Regions from separate parts of the Homo sapiens genome. Here regions 2 and 3 are each linked to region 1. Evidence: fine-mapped QTL for protein levels in blood plasma. A gene starts in region 1. Each other region holds a variant in brackets. All regions are shown on one strand. Distances are between the middles of the regions. Region 1 holds the start of CTBS (chitobiase). Region 2 overlaps SPATA1 (spermatogenesis associated 1). Region 3 overlaps SPATA1 (spermatogenesis associated 1).

What was found. PIP is the posterior inclusion probability: the model's chance that the variant is causal. Protein levels are from antibody-based Olink assays in UK Biobank. Linkage for the fine-mapping came from a reference panel and not from the study's own genotypes, which makes the PIPs less certain.
Region 2: its variant is fine-mapped to the plasma level of the CTBS protein (UK Biobank, PIP above 0.99).
Region 3: its variant is fine-mapped to the plasma level of the CTBS protein (UK Biobank, PIP above 0.99).

The regions. Positions count from the first base shown.
Region 1 is chr1:84,572,256-84,577,852 of GRCh38, reverse strand. It overlaps CTBS (chitobiase), which reads left to right and starts at 3,413. Exons shown (of 7, transcript NM_004388.3): 1 at 3,413-3,614. The coding sequence starts at 3,438. RefSeq lists a silencer at 3,281-3,400 and enhancers at 3,561-3,850, 3,961-4,060, 4,774-4,823.
Region 2 is chr1:84,531,183-84,536,779 of GRCh38, reverse strand. It overlaps SPATA1 (spermatogenesis associated 1), which reads right to left. Exons shown (of 14, transcript NM_001397487.1): 7 at 3,806-3,920; 8 at 3,014-3,071. Among named protein-coding and RNA genes, the nearest start is that of GNG5, 27 kb to the right of the region's middle. The variant T/C (reference allele first, on the strand shown) is at 2,591.
Region 3 is chr1:84,550,632-84,556,224 of GRCh38, reverse strand. It overlaps SPATA1 (spermatogenesis associated 1), which reads right to left. Exons shown (of 14, transcript NM_001397487.1): 13 at 246-315. CTBS (chitobiase) reads left to right here. Exons shown (of 7, transcript NM_004388.3): 7 at 1,026-5,593. The coding sequence ends at 1,226. Among named protein-coding and RNA genes, the nearest start is that of CTBS, 21 kb to the left of the region's middle. The variant G/T (reference allele first, on the strand shown) is at 4,307.

The DNA.
Region 1 (5,597 bases):
AAATTCAAAAAAGTGATAACACAAAATCCATTCAGTAGGTGAATAGATACATCAGTGGTTTTCTGGACAAATCATACACCCAGATCACCCTACAGTGAAATTCAAAGTTAAAAGCACCAGCTATCTACTTGGAGCTTCCTCTCTTTGTACTTTTTAATTTTTACTTTTAATCATGGACAGCAACCAAGAAAATCCAATAATGTAGAAGGAAGGGACCCAAACAACAGACAAAGGAATATGGAGGAAGCAGATGCTGCAGGATTGGATTAACTGTAGTACGTCCCAACAATGAAGTATTATTCAGTGCTAAAAAGAAATGAGCAATCAAGCCATGAAGGGACATGGAGGAACCATAAATGCGTATTACTAAGTGAAGGAAGCCAATCTGAAAAGCTATATACTGTAAGATTCCAACTATGTGACATTCTGGAAAAGGCAAAACTATGGAGACAGTGTAAAAATCTGTGGATGCCAGTGGTTAGCAAGGAGAGAGGAATGAATAGGTAGAGCACAGATAATTTTGAGGGCAGTGAAACTATTCTGTATGATACTATAATGCTGGATACACATCATTATACATTTGTCAAAGCCCATAGAATGTACAGCACCAATATAAAATTCAATACAAATATGTAGGAATTCCTCATTTGGTTAGTATGCAGAAAAGAGTTACCGTAACAGGCCTAAGACTGCGATCTTTAGAAAGGCCTGCTTCCTGAAGGTTGGCCTGTAGGTGGATTTGGGAGTGTTCCTGCTGTTCCCTGAGTCTCTAATGAGCTTCCATGGCAGACAGCCCTTCACACATGTTACAACGTGATGCTTGTGCTTGGCCTCCTCCTGTCTTCTTCCTGTGCACTTTTTCCCTTTGCTCTTTTGCTTCATATTCTTCTGCTGTAATAAATCTTAACTGTGAGTACAACTGAGTCCTATGAGTTCTTTTAGTGCATCACTGAACCTGGAGGTGATCTTAGGGATCCCTAACACAGGTAGATATGTGTTTTCTTCTGTGTCACAGAATACAGTCTGATTCTATGAGTCAGAAGGCTCTTTTCCTTGAAAACTTGATTCAGTGCAACCATTCATGTTAAAAACATAGTTACATTTCAGTATCATGAGGGATTGGTTCCAGGACTCCCAGATACCAAAATCCATGGATGCTCAAGTCCCTTATATAAAATGGCATAATCTATGCACATCCTCCTGTACTTCAAATAATCTCTAGATTAATTATAATAATACGATGTAATGCTATGTTGACAGTGCTCTTGCCGTATTTTTATTTGCATTTTTAAATTGCTGTATTATTTGTTATTTTTAAATACTGTTATCTGACATTGGTTAAAACCATGGATGTGGAACCTCTGGTTATGGAGGTTCAATTGTACTTTTTTTTTTTTTGAGACAGGATCTTGTTTTGTCACCCAGGCTGGAGTGCAGTGGCATGATCATAGTTCACTTCAGCCTCAACCTCCCGGCTTCAAGCAATCCTCTCATCTCAGCCTCCCGAGCAGCTGGGACTACAAGCTTTTACCACCGCACTGGCACACAGGGCTAATTTTTTGCTTTTTATTTTTTGTAGAGACAGGGTCTATGTTCCCCAGGCTGGTCTCAAACTCCTGCCCTCAAGTAATCCTCCTGCCTTGGCCTGCCAAAGTTATGCAATTGCAGGTGTGAGCCACAGTGCCTGGCCTAGCTTTTCATTCTGAAAACGCGTGTTCTTCAGTCCTGGAGCCTTGATAATTACTTATTTCTTTTCTTTTCTTTTTTTTTTTTTTTTTTGGAGACAGAGTCTCACTCTGTTGCTGAGGCTGGAGTGCAGTGGTGTGATCTCTGCAACCTCCACCTCCCAGGTTCAAGCGATTCTCCTGCCTCAGCCTTCCGAGTAGCTGGGATTACAGGTGTCTGCCACCATGCCCAGATAATTTTTGTATTTTTAGTAGAGATGGGGTTTCACAATGTTGGCCAGGCTGGTCTCAAACTCCTGAGCTCAAGTGATCTGCCCACCTCGGCCTCCCACAGTGCCGGGATTACAAGCATGAACCACTGTGCCCAGCCCAAATTACTTATTTCTTCTTATTTGTACTACGCTGCTTCTCAAGCACCTTTAAGAATTATTTATTTCATCCCCTCTGTACTGCGTTTTCCAATTTTCTTATCTTTCAGAGTTTTTGCTCTACATTCCTCAGTGTTATCTTCTACTAATAGTTTTTTCACTTCTTTCTTATTTCTATTAACTTTTAAAAATCCCCTACCCCTTTTATTGCACCCTGTTGTGGCTTCATCTTCTCTTATTTTTCTGGGGCTATTATGAGAATTTTTAAAAGTGTTCTCCCTGCAGCATCTGCTTCCTCCATATTCCTTTGTCTGTTGTTTGGGTCCCTTCTTTCTACATTATTGGATTTTTTTGGTTGCTGTCCATGATTAAAAGTAAAAATTAAAAAGTACAAAGAGAGGAAGCTCCAAGTAGATAGCTGGTGCTTTTAACTTTGAATTTCACTGTAGGGTGATCTGGGTGTATGATTTGTCCAGAAAACCCGATGTCAGTATCTTTGCTCAGCCTCTTAGGTTAATCAGATAGCGAGGGGTTTCAGTTTTCAGTAGGCATAAAGCCACTTATTCTCCGTTTTAGGTGGAATACCCACTCAGCAGAGAATTTATCCCCTTCAGGGAATTCAGCCGGGGTGGGAGCCCGTGGTGGGAAAGAGGGGCAGCTGCCCAGAGACATGAAGCTGGAAAAAGGATCTAGCGATCAGAGTCCTTGAGCAGCCTTTGACTAATCTCCCCCTTTTCCGATTTACCTCTCATACTCATACTTGTGCTCTCCAGCTTCCAACATTTTGTTGCTGTTATCTCTTTGTCCTTGTGTTTAGGTTGTTAAACTTGATTTTTAACAGGAGAGTAGGCAAAATTAGATGCTTGAATTCAAACCACGATCTTAACTAAGACCTGATATCCGTAAGTAAAAATTTTTGGTATTCCAGCTTTCTTTTGAGTAGCAAAAGAAAAACAAAGTCTTTTGGCCACTCCAACCATGTTACTCAGTAGGCCCTTCCAAAGACACCCACTTCTCCATTTTGGGGATCCCCTTGTACCTTCAGACTCCACAAGGAGTACACGACCAGCCACGACAAAACGAGATGCAGACTATTGGGAGGACTATAAACGGTAGGGGTGATACCCATTTGAGTCCACGAACGGCCCTCTCGGCGCCGCAGACACTGGCTGTCCCCCGAGACGCTCCAGCAGCCACTTAACTTCACCCACCTGTAGCGCCCGGGGACGCTCGAAGCCCGACCTCCCACGCCCGCCCCGGAGCCCCGCCCCTCCCGCCCCTCCCCGCCCTTCCCGACTCTCCCCGCCCCTTCCTGCCCCGACGCGCAGCAGGCCCCGCCCACCCAGGCGGTAGGAACCCACTCCGGCCCGCTAGACCTGCTGCTATGTCCCGGCCGCAGCTTCGACGCTGGCGCCTCGTCTCTAGCCCGCCGAGCGGCGTCCCGGGTCTAGCGCTGCTGGCGCTGCTGGCGCTGCTGGCGCTGCGGCTCGCGGCCGGGACCGACTGCCCATGCCCGGAGCCTGAGCTCTGCCGCCCGATTCGCCACCATCCAGATTTCGAGGTCAGCGCCTTCCTCTGCTCCTCTAGGTCTGGGCTTCAGGGCACGAAGAGAAGTTAGGGTAGAACGGAGCCCTAAGGAGAGGTGCCGTGGGCGCCGAAACCAGCTTTGACCACTCGATGAGGGCCTTCCTGTTTACGGATCCTTCAATTTATAGATGAGGAAGCTCGGGCTCAGAGAAGTTGAGTAACTCCTCAGGCCTCACAGCCTGTAAGTGCCTGCGTAGGCAGGCGAGAGTTCAAACCAGATCTGCCTCCTAAGGCAAGCTCCTTTCATTCCCCTGCTGTGCCTCTGCGGAAGCACTCTGGGTGTAAAAAGCAAACAAGGTAGGATAATCCATTTATGTTTCCAAGGAACGAGGATTTCGTTTGAAAGAATCTCAGCACTCCAACAGTACATTAGAATGCAGAGTATTTTGCTTACCTTTAGTTTTCTATACCTGCTAGCCCTTTCCTTTAAAGTACCTCAAAACCACCCATGAAGAGTGGTAAAAAAAATAGCTTTCAGTACATTTTCCTTCTATCTACATAACAATTTGTAAGGCTTCTGGCAACTTTAATCAAACACCTTCTGGAGCAATATTAAAACCACCTGACTGCCCACTTCGATGACTGAAAGCAGGAATTGGATGACATCAGGAAGGTCCAAAGGCTTAATTCAAAGAACGATTCTTTTGTAGAAATAGGCATGATTCCTAGTTCTTAATCTAGTACATTAATCTGAGGCAGAACACTTAGATGCCAGTAAAAAAGTATATATACATGACTTAGGAGAAGAAATAAAAATGGTGAAAGTGTTTATGGAGAACCTGCCTAGTGTGGAAACCTAACATCTTATTAAAAGAAAGACTTCAGACAAAGTAGGATAACCTTTTTTATTTGAGCAAAGAACAACTTATGAATCGGCAGTACTTAAACCAGAAGGGGTTCAGAGAGGTCTGCTTTAGTAGCATGGGCTTTTATAGGCCGAACAGGGAAGCAAAGGAAAATAATTACTTGGTTGGCTATGACTGTTTGCCTTATTTAGCTATGACTTGGTGGAAAATTACTAGTTAGAGGTTAGTTGGCAGTTTCTGATAGGTTAAGCTTAAGTTTCCTTTCACTGTTGACCTTGGGCTGGAGTTTGCTTAAGCAGGAAATCCAAGGCAGTTGGAGCTGTTTCAGCATAATGGCCTCCCAATTAAAATGTTTTATACAATCTGAGGCCCAGCGCGGTGGTAGAGGCAGTGGGGACAGTAGCTGTAAAAGTTCAACCAGACATTTCTTAATTTTCTCAATCTCTTTTTGAGATTGAGAAGCACTTTGTGAGGCCAAGGTGGGTGGATCACTTGAGGTCAGGAATTCGAGAACAGCCTGGCCAACATGGTGAAACCCCGTCTCTACTAAAAATACAAAAATTAGCTGGGCGTGGTGGCGGGCACATGTAATCCGAACTACTTGGGAGGCTGAGGCAGGAGAACCGCTTGAACCTGGGAGGCGGAGCGGGAGGCGGAAGGTTGCAGTTAGCCAAGATCACGCCACTGCACTCCAGCCTGGGCGACAGAGCAAGACTATGTCTCAAAAAAGAGAAAAAAAAAAAACCTGAAAGATTTACTGTAGTACCCAATACTTAGTGGGTTAGGCAATATCTGTGGGCACTTTGAAAACCAACTATTCAAAGAAGCAAAATTATGCTTATTTGTATCTTCATGGTAAATGGTCTTTTTCTCTACTGGCGTTTTCTATGTTTTTCAAACACAAAAACTAGACTACATGGCATTTTCCCCTTATATTTTCAATTAGTTCACCCAGCTTTTTTTTTTTTTAAGGATATCTGTTATATCACAGGCTCTTAGTATTTTTTAAACAAATAGAATCTTAATTATCAGAACTAAAATAGAAGTTTTGATAGAAATATGAGTCAGAAAACAATGGGCCACTTAATTTCACATTATGAATTTTTATTATTTCAGTAGGCAATTGCTTAGCAGAAAAAATGAGTTATGCA
Region 2 (5,597 bases), 41 kb after region 1:
ATATATTTCCCCAATGTCTGGTTAAAGAATTAAGTGGGCCGGGTGCGGTGGCTCATGCCTGTAATCCCAGCACTTTGGGAGGCCGAGGCGGGCGGATCACGAGGTCAGGAGATCAAGACCATCCTGGCTAACACGGTGAAACACCGTCTGTACTAAAAATACAAAAAAATTAGCCGGGCGTGGTGGCGGGCACCTGTAGTCCCAACTACTCGGGAGGCTGAGGCAGGAGAATGGCATGCACCCGGGGGGCGGAGCTTGCAGTGAGCGGACATAGCGCCACTGCACTCCAGCCTGGGCGACAGAGCGAGACTCCGTCTCAAAAGAAAAAAAAGTGGATATAAATCTCCTCTTAACATTTTTATATCCCCAAGTCTTCGGATTTCTTGCTCTACTTTTTAACAAGAAATTCTTGGCATTCTAAATTTACTCAGTATGAACCACCATATTGTCCAGGTTTCTGTCAGCCTCACTCAATTTAGCAAAATGTTTTTTACCACTCACAGTTGCTGGAGCTAGCACATTAAATCCAGAATCTCTGATAAGTGTATCCATATTATTAAACTTGAGCCAATTTAAAGTTATATTCTTTCATTCCTGCTCTGAATCTATTTCCAATAATATTTTTCTAAGTTTCTACTAGCATGAATTAACAAAATATTGCAGTTCTTTTGCAATAACCAGTCTGAGATTCTCATTTGTAAAAGTTTTTGGCCCATGTCACACTTTCTGTACCAAATACTGAATCAGTTCAGTGCAGGTTTAAGCAGGAAGAAATGTAATAAAGGAAATTAAGTGTATCAGAAAGACTGGAGGAGCAGGTTCTAGGTCTGGTCTCCTAAAATGATGTTTCCATTAGTGAAATTACCATTGTTGAGGCCATCACCAGAACTACGCTGAAAGCAAGAAGCCATCATTATTATTGCCATTACAACTTCTCACACTCAGGAAGCTGGAGGAAAAAACACTTAATTCATAACAAAAATAGAAAGAAAGAGTAAAACTATTGTTATTCACAGATGACATGAATATGTACGTAGAAAGTCCTAAAGAATCTACAAAAAAAAAACCTGATAGAACTAATTGAATTTAGCAAAATCTCAATAGATGAGTTCAATGTATAAAAATCAATTACATTTCTATAAACTAGCAACAATTAGAAAATAAAAATTTTAAAATACCATTCTATAGAAGCTTCAAAAATACCAAATATCTAAAAATAAATGTAATATTAAGATATAAGAGCAATACACTAAAACCACAGACACTGCTGAAAGAAACTAGTGACATAAATAGAGAAATATATTGTGTTCACAGATTAGAAGATTAAGTATAGTTAGGATATAAGTTTTCCTCCCAAATTGATTGACAGATTCACGGTGATTTCACTCAAAATTCCAGTAGTCTTTTGGTAAGAAATTGACAAGCTGATTCTAAAACGTATATGAAAACACAAAGAATCTAGAATCACCAAAATGATCTTGAAAAAAAATTGACTTGGAAATCTTACGCTATCTGATAACAATAACTACTTATAAAGCCTCAGTAATGAAGATAATGTGGTATTGGCGTAAGGATTAAAAAAAATCATTGAGCAGAAAGGGAAGCTAGAAGTTGTCCTAGATCTTATAGAGTCAACTGAGTTTTGAATAATGCAATAGGAAAAATAAAGTCTTAACAAATGGTGTAGGAGGTGGGTATCTGAGGATCTCAACTGAACCACAACCACAACCTCATTCTGTACATAAAATTTTGAGATTCGTGGTTCTCTTCAAATTACCTCTATTTAACAAAAATTATCACTGAGAATGCAAGAGAAAGGAGGTCTTGATTGTCTGAGGAGAAGGTATGACAGAGTTGTCTAGAAGAATAGTAATGGACCAAGAAAATGTAGTATATTTGTTGGCACAATTAAAGACTCATTTGAAGTTTGTGATTTATTAACTATGGTTGGAATTTTGTCCAATGGGTATGAAAGACATAACCGTGGAAGAATTAATGTAACTTTCTGTGTTTTCGTTTTCTCATCTGAAAATAGAGATAATAGTACCTCCACAAATAGTTGTTGAATTAAATGAATTAACATACATAAAGCATTTAGAATAGTGATTGGCTCAGTAAATGCTATCTAACTGGTTTTTGCTATGTTATTAGTAGTATTATTTAGGTAGGTAGTTATTAAAATGGTTAAGACTGAACTCTGAAGCCAGTCTACACTATTTAGGATCTAAGCCCAGCTCTAGTACTTACTAACTATATAATATCACCTGGGAAAGCCATGGAACCTCTCTGTGCCTCAGTTTCCTCATCTGTAAAAGGGGAATGATAACCATAACCTACCTCATGGAGTTTCCTTTATGGGGATTAAATGAGTCAGTATGTGTAAAATACTTAGAATAATGCCTGGTAGTTGATACTCATGGATAGCTATTATTTAAATTAGTATTGTTATCATTCTTAAGACTGTCCTAAATTCATCCTGCAAATATGTGCAAAATTCTCCTAGTCTTTCCATCATTTCTTGAGAATAAACTGGTAATGTGAATAGTGTTCATTAACTCGTTTAAACCAGTGCAATTCAAATTGGGTAACA[T/C]ATCCAAGGTCACACAGCTAGTAACTATAACATAAACAATTTACTACTATACTGCTTCTTAACACACTATATAATTCTGTTCTAAAGAGACAAGTTAATCAAGTACAGGTATTAGTATATTAAATTACAAATTAGCTATGAAAGCTGCTAGTTAAGTATAGTTTGATGTACCTTTAAAACTAGTAATAAAATTTGAGAAGATAATCCAAAAAGGTGTTGGTGGATAACTTTTCCCCCTTCTCATTTGGGCATATTGTTACCTTATTTATAAAAACAGAAAAATTGGACTACTATTGATTATATTGATATTAGAAGTATGTTTCTGGAAAACTTAGACATTTTAATCTGCAGTTTCAGTTTAATCTTAGTAAAAATATTATGATGTTGCAATACCATGTTTAAACAAAAAATTTTAAATAGTACCTGATTGTCCTGTCTTCTACTGATAGCTGTATCATCTTCATTTTCCCAAAGACACTGACTTAAAGGAAATGACAGGTTTGAAAGTCATTAAAACATGATCCCATGAATATTAGCTTTTCATATTTTATGTATTTTATTTGATGCTCTGTAAACACAAATATTGAAAATTTTCAAAGTCAGCCTGAGACCATTATCATATGTTCTTTCAGACTCATTAGTAATCCATGTAAAGCTACATTTAGTATGAGTAATAAAATCATATTTTATTATATTATAGCTAAATTCTAGTTCAATATCTATAGCAAGATAAAATTACTTGAAATTTTAGAAACATATTTGTTTATTGTTCTTTTGTGAATAACTGTTTATAAGAACCCTTAATTTCAAAAGACTGTGTAAAACTCGTCTAAGTACTATAATTTTGAATAAAATGATACCAGTGTGAAAATCAAGCATATTGATTAGTTTACCTATAACCAAGAACTTAAGAGAGGCAGGATAATTAGTTCTAATGAAGGGAAACAAAGACAGAAATTTTTCTGTCATCAAGTTGTCCCAATGATAAAAGTACTACAATAGAAATAAATTTAAGTTATGAATTATCCCTTATTATCTTGGAGAGGAATGTTAGCAAAAAACAGTAAAGATCTGAATCAAGGTAATTTTAATTAAAATATCACTAATTTCACTCATATCTTTAAGTAGAAGTCTTTATAACAATACTCTGAATATCTTACTCTTTTTCTTATTGTTTAGATTATGGCATGTGGAATCAGCATCTATACTAATTACCTTTTTTTAGTGCCAAAGCAATCATTATTTGAATCTTCCAATGATCCTGGCAACTCAGAATTTCCAATTTGATTTTTTGCAATTTGGCTTTTTTCTGCAGTGGCTTTTCCCCCAGCTGATGTTGATGGTCATCCACAGCAAATAAAGTTCAGAATGTTAGGAAAATAGTAAAATAAACGTTTGTTTTTATACATGTACACTATAATCTTATCGTAGATTTCAGAATCCCCATGAACTTTCCTATATAGATATAAGTCAATAGTTTCCAAAGTGAATTTCATGAAATATTTGTTTATGTGAAAAGAAAATTATTTGGTTAATTCAGCTTGGGAAATGTTGAATTAAGCAACATCAAACAGCAACACAACCCCCTACACACACATTCACTCCTATTAAAGGGTTTGTCTCCATGTACAACTAAATCTGCAAGAGCGGGGTAGGTAAGTTGGGGGTTTCCTGAAATATAATTTTTTTTTTTTGAGATAGAGACTTGCTCTGTCGCCCAGGCTGGAGTGCAGTGGTGCAATCTCAGTTCACTGTAGCCTCTGCCTCCCAGGTTCAAGCGATTCTCCTGCCTCAGCCTCCCAAGTAGCTGGGATTACAGGCATGTGCTACCACGCCCAGCGAATTTTTGTATTTTTAGTATAGACAGGGTTTCACCAGGTTGGCAAGGCTTGTCTTGAACTCCTGACCTCAGGTGATATGCCCACCTTGGCCTCCCAAAGTGCTGAAATTACAGGCATAAGCCACTGCGTTCGGCCTTAATTGTCTTTACAAACCGTTTGCCAAAGCAGTTTTTGAAACAGTGCTCTGAGGAACCTTCTCTGGAAAATGCTGGTATAAATACAGAACATAAAATGTCATTTTTTATTTCACATACATTTTCATTGATAAAATCTCCCTTCATTTTAACAAAATTTCTCAATATAGGAAAACTAAACAATCCATCTTTGAAATATTAACACTAATGTTCCACATGGTCTATATAAACAAAAGATACACGAACCTGGCAGTATTAATTCAGATTTTTTTCCCTTGGAGAAATCAATTTTTTTAATTCATAAAAGAATAAGTGAGCCAAATTAATATTTGAAAAGTCATTTTACAAGAGTTGTTGCTGGGCATGGTGGCTTATGCCTGTAAACCCAGCACTGTGGGAGGCTGGGCAGGAGGATAGCTTGAGCCCAGTAGTTCAAGACCAGCCTGGGCAATATCTCTAGAAAAATAAAATAAATTAGCCAGGCATGGTGGTGCATGCCTGTGTTCCCAGCTACTTGGGAGACTAGGGTGGGAGGATGTCTTGATCCTGGAAGGTTGAGGCTGTAGTGAGCCATGATCACCCTGCTGTTCTCCAGCCTGGGCATCAGAGCAAGACCCTGTCTCAAAAAAAAAAAAAAAAAAAAAGACTTGCCAAACTATTGTGCAACCTGGAGCCCATACTGATTTTTGTTTGGCTGCTACAATTTATTTCCCACCTGGTATTGAAATTGTCACTTAAGAACAACAAACAGAGGCTGGGTATGGCGGCTCATGTCTGTAATCCCAGGACTTTGGGAGGCCGAGGCGGGTGGATCACTTGAGGTCAGAAGTTCAAGATCAGCCTGGCCAACATGGTAAAACCCTGTCTCTACTAAAAATATAAAAATTAGCCAGGTGTGGTGGCACGTGCCTGTAATCCCAGCTACTCGGGAGGCTGGGGCAGGAGAATAGCTTGAATCCAGGAGGCAGACACTGCAGTGAGCCGAGATTGTGCCACTGCTCTCCAGCCTGGTCTGGAGAGAGACCCTGTCTC
Region 3 (5,593 bases), 22 kb after region 1:
TCCTTTGTCTCTTATCCAATAGCTCATGTGCTGCCTGAGAGAGACTGTGTTAGTACTAGATAGAGGTAGTTGATTCTGGGCAGAAGGACTTTTTAGGGTGGAAGGTGAACATAAGACCAGAATCTAATTTATGGCTCATAATCAGGTGTATGTTAAGTCACCAATAAAGTGCAGACCTAACAGACTCTGAGAATGTATCTGTAAGACCTAGAAAAGGATGTACTTTTCTCCTCCATTGCCATTACCTTTTGACTTGGCTGATTCATCATAAACAAAATCTTCTGTAGACCTCCTAGCCAGGCACACTTCTAGCAACTACAGAGAATACAAAAAAGCACATAAGCTGGTTTTAGAGGACCAGAGCATTGATTCCCCTTAACTTTGGTTGCATACCAGCATTATCTAATGAAACATTAAAACACAAAACAAATATATGCCCTAGCATTAACCCTGGAGAATTCTGATTCAATAGGTTTCATGTGGTGTGGGACCCAGGAATCTGTATTTTAAAAGCTCCGCAAGTGATTCAGATGTACGCCTTGGCTAATAATCACTGGCTAAGGGCAAGGAAAGAATCTTAGGACATGAAAAGGAGCTCAAGTAGAATCTATTAGGAGGCTCGTTTCTGTAATCTTTGCCATTGTTAAAAGTGCCATAAGCAATAATACCTAGAAAGTACAGATGTTCCTTGATTTATGATTGTATTGTGTCCTAATAAACCCATAAACATATGATAAGTTGAAAATGAACGAAATACCCTGATAAATCCATCGTAAAGTCTAAAAATTGTAAGTTGAACCATTGTAAGTCAGGGACCATTTGTATCAAATATAGAACCATGGAATTATAGAATAGGAAAGTGTTATGCCCTAAAATTTTTATTTCATTGTATCCTTTTTGAATAATTGGATTTAGGAAACTTTTTTCCCTCTTACTGTACTGTATACTTCTTTTATTTTTCCCTTTCCTGTGGTGCTGAATTGTACTAAATACTTTAAAATCTCCATTTTAATTTATTTATATAGGATCCTGCTGGCCACTTTCATCAAGTATGGTATGATAACCCTCAGAGTATTTCTTTAAAGGCAACATATATACAAAACTATCGCTTACGGGGCATTGGCATGTGGAATGCAAACTGTCTTGACTACTCTGGAGATGCTGTAGCCAAACAGCAAACTGAAGAAATGTGGGAAGTCTTAAAGCCAAAGCTGTTACAGAGATGAACATCTTTTGTCAAACCATTAAGAGTTAGAAAGATGATCTGTATCAACAGATCTAGTTTCTTGCATTTTTATTATGTTGCTATATACTTTTGTTATCCGTATACTAAAAAAAAAGAATAAATAAATGTTTTGATTGTTTGAATTTGAAAAATACACACGAATGTCCTCAGTATCCAGGAACATAAAGGCAAGAAGCAAGTCAACTTACCTATTAAATATTCCTCTATTAGATGTTTCAACACTATAATTTAATTGGGAAAAATTGCTTTCAGAATTTTATTATGCCATATTTCCCTTCATTATAGTAAAATATATGCTCACGAATCAATGCTGATTTTTAAAATATGTATAATCTGAAGTGGAAATTGTTTGCTTAGAGTTTTTAAAAACCTAGTCTTTGAAAAGCAGTTTGTGCTATACTTTTCCCCCAACCCTCCAATAAATCTTAAATTTAAAACCTACAATGTAGTGTCTCCCCTTTAGGTTCATCAAACTGATGAAAATAATTTTTCTGCTTCCTGACTCCATATAGTATTTATGTTCTCTGAGGTACTTGAACTAAATCTTTGGACAGTGAGTGAGAATTAAAAAGAATCCAGAAGATTAAATGTATTCACAAAATAGAAGAATGTAACAGTAATATTTTGAATTGGTAAGTTAGAACTACCTAATATTTTCCAACTACATTATTTTTATGAGGCTCATTTGTAAAATTTTTAATAATAGGAATAACTTGCAGTTGAACTTGATTCTGTTCACTGTCACACTTCTAATTATTCATTTCTTCATTTATGGACATATATAATTTATTTCTTGGCTAGCTTGCTTACATGGTTAAATTTTTCTTTCTACATCTGCAATGTATCTTTTTTATTTTTATTTTTTGTAGAGACAGGGTCTCGCTATGTTGTCCAGATGGGTCTCCAACTCCTGGGCTCAAGCACTCCTCCTGCCTTGGCTTCCTAAAGAGCTGGGATTACAGGCATGAGCTGCATTGTGCTTTTAATGATCTAAAGACACTGATTAGCTTCTCAACTAGTTCTCTTTCTAAAAGATCAATTTTATACAAATAAGTTTTCTAAATGTAATAAAGTCTGTTTTCTTTCTCCAGGGAATTAAGAACAACATTGTGCTGCCCTTATTAGTTCCTAATTACAGATTAAAAATCTGTATCTTTGAACTCTAGATTTACATAAATCCTGGCTTCCCTGCACATTTTGCCCCTGTAAATTGGAATACATGATGATTGAACCATCTGTTATGAGAATATTACATTTCCTATTTACACAATTGTTTGTGACAGAGTAAAAACCATTTTCATAGTATATGTTGGATCACTGTTGTCTTCATATTTCTAAAATAAATGAATTAAAAAATTTAAATTCTTAGATGCTTATCTCTATCATAGCTCAGAATGCAACTTCAATACCCCCATTCTTTTATATTTCCAGATTTCTTTTAATTAAGATATAATGAACAAATTAAGTTAAATGAAGTCTGTATTTTCATGCAAATATATTAGTATTCATTAATATACATTTATTCTTTGCAAATAGATTTTAGTTATATTAGCTCTTAAATTGTTAAATAAATTATTATTGAATTTTATTATTAAATTATTAAAATGAAAATTATAAAATTAGCACTGTAAAATAATATGTAAAGGACTTGGAATGTTAAAAATAACCATTCATCATTTTGCTTTATATTACATCTAATATTTCCTGAAACATTTTGTAATACCCACATGGAAAGTGGAGAAAGAGAAACCTTGTGCTTTTTATAAAACATTGCCAAGGAGAATAATGGTTAAACAAATCTGTTCAAATACATATTTAAATTTTTTTACAAATAAAAGTTTTAAATTAACATACCTAATTGAGATTGTAGAGATGTATTATTTTTTTTTTCTGTGCCAGTTCAGTTTTCAATGTTCGTAAATCTGAAACTGCTTGTTTTCTCATCTATAAAAAGAATTACTTTTCAAAAATGAACTTCATCATACCCTTCTAAAAGTACATCATAGTTGTCATGTAAACAGGGTTTTTGTAACCGCTTTAACTGTCTTCTCTCATTTGGCTTCAGTGCTTTCAACTCCCACTGGATTACTACAGTAAATGTGTAGATTATGAATGCTGTTTAATAAGCATGCTTATCTACTGGTGAGATATGCTATAAGGTAACCTTGTTTATGAGTAGATAGGGACAATACAATTGAACTGTTCTAAAAACTAGAGTGAGAAAGAATTTTATGTTTTGCTTAAACTTCAAAACCTGTTGTTCTCAATGTGTAAAGAAAATAGTGAAAACAACAAGAAAACAAAATACAAAAAAAACCCTTAATTCCTAGCCCTTAGGAACGGAATAGATATTTCAGAAATATAGTGTTTACTCTGTGGCAAGCACTCTTCTAAGTGTATTAGTCTCTTATTTTTTTTTCAAAAATTTTACAGAATCAGATACTAGTATTTATCCCCATTTTACAGTTGAAATGGAGACCTTTAGAGGCTAAGTAACTTGCTCAAGATAAAAAACTAGTAAGTGAAGTGGGTACAGCCAGGATTCAAATTCAAACCACCTGGTACCAGAGCCCTTACTATTCCAAGTGTTGTCTGTGGACAGCAGCATTAGCATCAGTTGGGAGCTTGTTAGGTAGGAAGAATCTCAGGCTGCACCCAGACCTACTGAGTCAGATCCTGCATTTTTAAACAGGATCCTCAGATGATATATTAAACTTTGAGAAGCACTACTTATGCTATACTATCTTGAATAAATATGGTTGCAAGAGACTCAGGCTGGGTTTTTTTTGTCCCTTAGTTCTGAATCTTATAGGTAGTGCTGTTTTGGGGAGATCATTCAGAAATCAATAAAACTTCTTAAATAATGTCTGTTATGTGTCAATCAGGCACTATGGTTAAATACAGGATTTTTTCCCCCCAGCCTATAAGCTGAAAACTTTGTTCTCTTTTTTTCCTCTTATTCCACTTGTCCTTACTGTTTTTGTATGAACAATTCTAATTTGAGTTCAAACCATGAGTGACATTTGTAATGTTAAAATATACAAAGATTACAAGTAATGT[G/T]CATGCTTTCCAGAAGAAAACAGCATGAGGGGAGTCATAATCCAAGCCTCTGGGGGCATTTTTATTACTCCTTCCTACCTACCCAATTATTAAGTGTACAAGTTTACATATTGGCTTTATCTCCATATATTGAATAGACAGTTTTCCTTCATTGAACAAATTATTTTTTGAGTGCATATTTAACTGATATTTTGTTAAAAATTATCCTCTGCTCTTTTCCTTTTCTATTTTAAGTTTTAAGCTTCTCAGTGCCAAACCAGGGCTTATTTAGCCTCGAGAATGCTGCTTGTAAAAAGAATCTAGAACTGCACTGTCCAGTATAGTAGAAGCCAGTTGCCATATGTAACTACTAAACTTAAATTAACTAAAATTAAATAAAATTTAAAATTCAGTTCCTCAGTCACACAAACTACATTTCAAGTGCTCAATATCAATAGGTGGCTAGTGGGTACCAATCTGACAGTGCAGGCATAGAACATTTCTATCATCACATAAGTTCTGTTGGACAGTGCTAATTCTATTTTTTTATTTTTAAATTTTATTTATTTTTATTTTTATCTGAAACCGAGGACAGTACTGATTTTCTTTTTTCTTTTTAAAATTTTTTTAAAAAGAGCTAATTCTAGAATGCAGTCATTATTCTGTGTCATAAAGCTGTTTCTGATAAAGAAATGAGAGCATTCATATAATTATCGTTCTCATTTTCCTGCCTTGCTGTGGGTACTTGTATGAAAATGTATAATCTTCTGTTTTCTGTTCAACAAAAAAGCTTTTTAATACATATGTACTTCACAGATAATTTCTATGATGTAATTAGTTGTACACAATTCTCACCAAATAGAGCATGCCCAGAAGCCTCTACTAAGCATCTGCTATACAAAAGGTCCCATGGGAGAAACAAAGTTAACTAAGGCATAGTCTCTGCCAGGAAGGAAACTTAACATCTAGTAGAAGACACATTATTCATATTTAAATAATAGAATACATATGAAAATAACCAGAAAAAATGAAACGATTACCCATAAAAAATTAAATGTCAGTTCAGAGGAGAGCTCAGTGGTTTATCAGACTTAATAATTCTAATACAGGAAAACTACTTAAAATTTTTTTTGAGAATATATTGACTCACAGGTTCCTTTTCCTTTAATTCTTCCTAGTAAAATTTTACTAAATTTTACTTTGGCTTTATTATATCATGTATCTTTTCACAGGTTTAGTTTTTCTTCCTGCATTTTTTTTTTCACCTATGCTCTTTACTGTTAAGGTAACAATTTTAATACAGTCAAT